Regions from separate parts of the Homo sapiens genome. Here region 2 is linked to region 1. Evidence: fine-mapped expression QTL. A gene starts in region 1. The other region holds a variant in brackets. All regions are shown on one strand. Distances are between the middles of the regions. Region 1 holds the start of PCNX1 (pecanex 1). Region 2 has its middle 24 kb from the start of PCNX1.

What was found. PIP is the estimated chance that this variant, and not a neighbour inherited with it, causes the effect.
Region 2: its variant is fine-mapped to the expression of PCNX1 in whole blood (TOPMed, PIP 0.99).

Annotation. Positions count from the first base shown.
Region 1 is chr14:70,905,870-70,908,779 of GRCh38, reverse strand. PCNX1 (pecanex 1) reads right to left here and starts at 1,321. Exons shown (of 36, transcript NM_014982.3): 1 at 777-1,321. The coding sequence starts at 929. RefSeq lists silencers at 169-508, 669-1,008, 1,229-1,418.
Region 2 is chr14:70,881,615-70,884,524 of GRCh38, reverse strand. No RefSeq gene overlaps it. Among named protein-coding and RNA genes, the nearest start is that of PCNX1, 24 kb to the left of the region's middle. The variant C/A (reference allele first, on the strand shown) is at 1,265.

The DNA.
Region 1 (2,910 bases):
GGCCTTGAACCAAGCCAAACAAATCTGCTGAAATGCCAGCCAGATTCCCCGTTATCTCCCCGCTCCCTCCCCCCAGGGAGGCCAGGAAGCACCACGGCCACCGGCCACGGGGCCGAACAGAGAAGAACCGCTGCGAAGCACAACAACGGTTTTTTAGAGGCAGGAGGGTTCCGAGCCGGGTTTTCAGCCACCACCCAGGACCCCTGGAGGACGAGCCCGGACGACCCCCACACACACTCGGAGCAGAGCCGCACGGTCCCCCGCGCTCCCGGGGCTCCGCACGCGGATTAGCGGCGAGGCGGCGGGCGGCCTCTCCCGGGAGCCCCGGACGAGGGCCGCGGCGGGGGCGGGCAGTGCCGGATGCCGGGCGCCCGAGGAACCCAGCGTGCCAAGGATGGATGCGGCGTCCCCTAAAGCCGCAGAGCGCTCGGCGCCTGCCACACAGCCCCACGGGCGGGGGGCCCCGGCGGGGACGGCCTAGCCGAGTGGCCGCAGGAGGGAACCCCGAGAAGGGGCCTAGGACGCTGCCGCTTCCCAGTGAGCGGGCGGGGGCGGCCGGCGCGGGTTGCCGTGGGCTCGTTGCTCGTGTCACCTCCGAAACCAGGAAAGCCCCGAAGAGAGGAGTGGGAGCACGCAGTGGGGGCGGGGAGCCTCACACCGAGAGGGTGGCGGCCCCCGGGGGACGAGACCCCGTGGAAGAGGAAGAGGGCGCGACCCCAGCATCTCCCCACCGGCTCGCGGGGAAGGAGCCACCCGCTCCCCGCCCCCACACTCACCATGTAGAGGGTGAAGGGCAGGCCCAGCAGAAAGAGCCACAGGTAGAGGTGCAGCGCGTTCACGAAGGTGGCCTGGTGCGGGTCGTAGTACCAGCCCCCGCTGAGCGCGGCCCACACCCCCTGTCGGAGGATCTGCAGCGTCTGCGACCCCATCCCCACCCGGCGCCGCCGCCGTCGCCGCCGCCGCCGCCGCCGTCCCCGCCCCGGCCCCAGCTCGGCCTCGGTCGCCGGAGCCTGCAGCTGCCCCGTCTATCCACCTCCGGAGCTCCGGGTGAGCGAGCCGGCGCTTCGGCGGTCGCTGGTGCTGCTGCAGGAGGAGGAGGAGGCAGCAAACGAGGAGGAGGAGACCCGAGAGGAGGAGGCGGCGAGCGGCGGGGCGGAGGACGGCGGAGAGGAGGAGACCGGCCTTCTGAGAGCCGCCGCCATCTTGTCTCCTAACACCCGGAGCCGCGGCCCGGCCCCCGCCACCCGCGGCCCGCCAGCGCCCCCACTGCCGCCGCCGCGACCCCCGCCGGCCGCCAGCCCTGGGCCAGGCAGAGAAAGAGGCCCGGCGCCAGGGAGCGACCGAGAGGAAGCCGCGCCCCCTCCAGCTCCTCCTCTCCGCTCCCTCCGCCCCCTGGGCCGGCTACGGTGCGCGCCGCGCCTGGTCCGCCGCGGGCGCCTCCTGCCGACGTCCGGGAGAAGCGCGCGTCAACGCGGCCGGGGTTCAGGGCCCCGGGGGCTGCGGAGGTGGCTGAGACGCGGCTGGCTGGTCCGGAGGACCCCATTCTGCCCCTGGTAGGCCCCCTGGCAAGTTCGCCTACGAGTCTCTAAACGGGGTCTTTCTGACTCCGAAACTAACAGATCTTGACTCCAGAAAAGCGTCCTGCCTGTCATTTATGATATTTGTGAAAGACCTAGGAACAACTGAAGCTAACACCTGAGATACTGAAGGCCTGGAAGAGTTAGGTACGGCTGATGACACTGTTGAAAAGTCATAAACGCACCCAAGTTGAGCAAGAACTGTGTTGGCCCGTGTGTGAGAAAAAATAGCCACGTCCAGACTGGGAGAATTTACTACTTCCAAAGACAAGTTAATAGAAGCGGCACAGGACATGGAAGTATGGAGTGGACAGGTTACCATTTGTACGCGGTGATTGTATTTTTAAATGTGCTGTAACTAGCAGCCATTTTTATTAATGGGCCAATCTAAACAGGGTTGAAAAAGATTAACCGTGACGCCACCCCAAATTACAATAGGGTCTTGTAGATCTCTTTTTATAGCTGTAAAAACGGAATCATTCTTGGCTCTGTGTAATGTTTATAAGGCGTGTCTGATCTCACTGAATAAAATTTTATAGAAAAGTTTGAAATTTGAGTTTATTGAAGTTTGGCTTTTATGGCAATAAAAGTACTGTGTATTCCCAGATTACAGTTGCTATAATTAATGAGGGAAACAAGAGCCAAAGGAAACTGGTGATATTTTAAGAAGAGTAATGAAAAACCGTTACAATACCTCCCAGTGCCATACCACTTTATAGTTGCTCAGACACTATCACACCCATTCCATTCAGACCTCAGGACAACCCTTTGAGGGCAGCATAGCAGCTATTGTTATTTTATGGATGAGAAAACCTGTAAACTCAAGTAAGTGATTGGCCAAATGCTTATGGCCACTTATTGCTCATAAGCAATAAGTGGTTGAGAACTCTAAAACCAGCAGTCATGCTAACTGCATGCACTGAACTTTGGAAGTTCATTTCTCAAGGCTCTCCACCTTATTATCCATTTCAGGTAAAAGTTTGAATTGATTAAGAACAGTTCAGCACCTTCTGGTTATCTGTGACCAGCTTAAATACATGACCAGTTTTCGTCAAAGTGCAAATTCTTAGGGCATCATTCTATAGACACTCTGTGGGGTGGTACCCAGCAATCTGTTTTAACAAGTCCTCCGGAGGATTCTAATGTAGCTTACCACTGTAGAACACCACACCATCCCTAGCCTTGATTTGTTTATGTCCTTATAACCACAAAGCCACTGAGTTCCAGTAAGATACCTTGAAATTGAGAGCTGTGAGTAAACACTGGACAAAATATACTTTAAAATATATTTGTATATCTAAAAGCAAAATTATGATTAAATAATGCAATTTTA
Region 2 (2,910 bases), 24 kb after region 1:
TTTTCTGCTCGGCCTTTTCTCCTGCTCTTCTCTGCCAGGAATGCTCATTTCCTCTGTGCTAGTTCAGGATCATCCAAGATCTAGCATAAAATCCATCTTCTTTACAAAAAATGGCCCTAACCTTCCCAGCTGGAAATGGTCTCTTCCTTTCATTGATCTACTGTGGCACTGTATCTAGTGACACCTAACAGTTTTCTACATTTTGCCGTAGTTAATTGTATACATATTTTTTCTCCCCTTTTACACTATAAGGTCTCTGAGAACAGAGAGCATCTGATTTTTTTTTTCTTTTTTCTTTTTTGAGACAGAGTGTCACTCTGTCGCCAGGCTGGAGTGCAGTGGCACAATCTCGGCTCACTGCCTCCTGGGTTCAAGCAATTCTCCTGCCCCAGCCTCCCGAATAGCTGGGACTACAGGTGCACGGCACCAAGCCCAGCTAATTTTTGTATTTTTAGTAGAGACGGGGTTTCACCATATTGGTCAGGCTTGTCTCGAGCTCCTGACCTCAGGTGATCCACCCACCTCGGCCTCCCAAAGTGGTGGGATTATAAGCGTGAGCCACCGCGCCCGGCCTATTTTTTCCTTTTTGATGGCCTTACAGTGCCTAGCAAAATGCCTTGCTCAGAGTAAGTGCTTGATATAAATTTATTAATCCATCAGCTGGATGGATGGATGGATGGATGGATGGATGGATGGATAGATGGATGGATGAATGGATGGATGGGAAGGAGGTTATAGGAATTGAGACTCTGGCTGAGCTTTTTTAGCCAGGTAGCCATGGCAGGAGAAAGGCTTCACCTTTCATGAGAGCGTATGGTCATAATCACAGAAGGGAAAGAATAGCTTGAACCATAGCTTGAACCAGTTAACCATGCTGCCAATAAAATCAGGCCACATGTGTTTACCATGTTTTATGTTTACCAGGCTGCATCAGTAGGATACTTTAAAATATGGGACAGAAATCCTGACTCAACCTCAAACTAGCTTTTATCATAAAGAAATGTATTGGCTCCAATGCAGGATGTCAAAGGCTGGGTAGGATTCAGGACTGGTGGATCCAGTGGCTCTTTGCATCTCTCTGCTGTGCTATCCCCAATGCTGACTTCATTCTGGGGAAAGATCCCTGGGTTTTGGAAGGCTTCCAGTAGTTGCTGGGTTAATTGCTTCCCTTTTCACCTCCTACTAACTTCCTGTGACTCTTTCTTAAGGGTAAGAAAGCATATTTTCCGGAAGTGTTTAGAAAACTCTTTATGACTCATTGGTC[C/A]CAATTGGCCTTGGCCTGCCTACCCCAGACCCATTCACTAGCAACGGGGATGGGGGTGGGGTTCACATCACTCAGGACCCACCCTAGAGCTGCAGTAGAACCTGTGATGGAGAGTCACTCCAACACCCCTTACACAGCAGACAGTTTTATGGGGGCCACTCCAATGAAAGGTTGGCTCTTAGGACCTTCTCATTTTAGACACGCAGTAAACAATGAAAAACATGTCATCCAAGAGATCTCATTGTCACGGATCTTACAATATATCTCTTGCCTAAGAGTCTTCCGGTGTTTCTTGTGCAAATCCAGCGGTTAGTCAACAGGGTTTATGGAACACATGCTGTTTAGATAGTGTTACTCTAAGCACTGTACAAAGTTAGAAAAACAAGACAATGCAGCTACTTAAAAAAAATTTTTTTTAGAGACAAGGTCTTGCTCTGTTGCCCAGGTTAGCTTCAAACTCCTGGGCTCAAGCAATCCTCCTACATCAGCCTCCTTAGTCACTGGGATTATAGGCGTGTGCTGCACTGCCTGGCTTATTTTTTTTTTAACAGTAGAATGAGCATTGAGGAAAGTAGTTCTCTTCTGTTAATTCTGCTCCGTTATTTTCCAGAGTGTAGAAACTGCTTGATTTCCTTCCTCCTTTCTTTGTCCCCTCTTATTCAGCTCTCTCTTTCCTGTCACTAATTTTCTCCTTTCTTATTCTTTCCTCATTTCAGGAAAGCAACATAGCGGAGATTAGGAGTGTAGAATCTGGAGTTAGATTTCTTGGGTGGGAATTCTCACTTTGAGTTCTAGCTGTGACTTTCCAGCCGTTACTTCATTTCTCTAAGCTTCTTTTCACTGGTAAATCATGTCTAAACATTATGCCTACCTCCTTGGGTTATTCTCGAATTTTAAAAATGATGCACATTAAAAATGATTACTAATGGTTAATGATTTTAATTTTCTTCTTCATCTTTTTTTAATTATGCCACATTTTGTGTCCTGTTCCTCCCTCCTACATCCCACAGTGATAGGCTGATAGAAAATAGTCAGAAATAGAGTGCACAGAATCAACTTCCTAGTGAGAAATGGAATGGAACCATTTCAGTTCCTTCTCTTTTCTTCATTATACTTCGAGTATTTAAAGAGTGCTATGTGAATACATTTAAGGCAATGGAAATGTACAAAACCAGTTGAGAGGAACACATATGTGGTACATATGGAAGCGGAAGTATGAATGCTCTGTTCTGCATAAGAATCCCCCAGCTCTCAGTTGCTTCATCGAGGCCTGGTTTGTTCAATTGGTTAGAGCACCTTCTGATGTAACCAAGATCACGGTTTCAATTCCAGAATGTGGTGAGCCTACTTTATCTATTTGATGGCTACAGCCTCCTCTGCTGAACCTGGCAACCATCTGTAAATGCATCCATTGTTTAGAAAATGATCAATCAGAGGAGCCCGGTTGAAGCAATGCAAATCAATCACCTTACTAGGAAACAACACGACAACAGAAAGTACATGCTATCATGGTGGTGGGTTAACTGTATGATGTTTGTACATGAAGAAGGCATAGACCATGACATCATTATAGAGTTCATGGAAAACAAATAGGTTTGAAGCTATAGGTTCCACAGCAATTCACAGCCTATAAAAAAGATTACTGC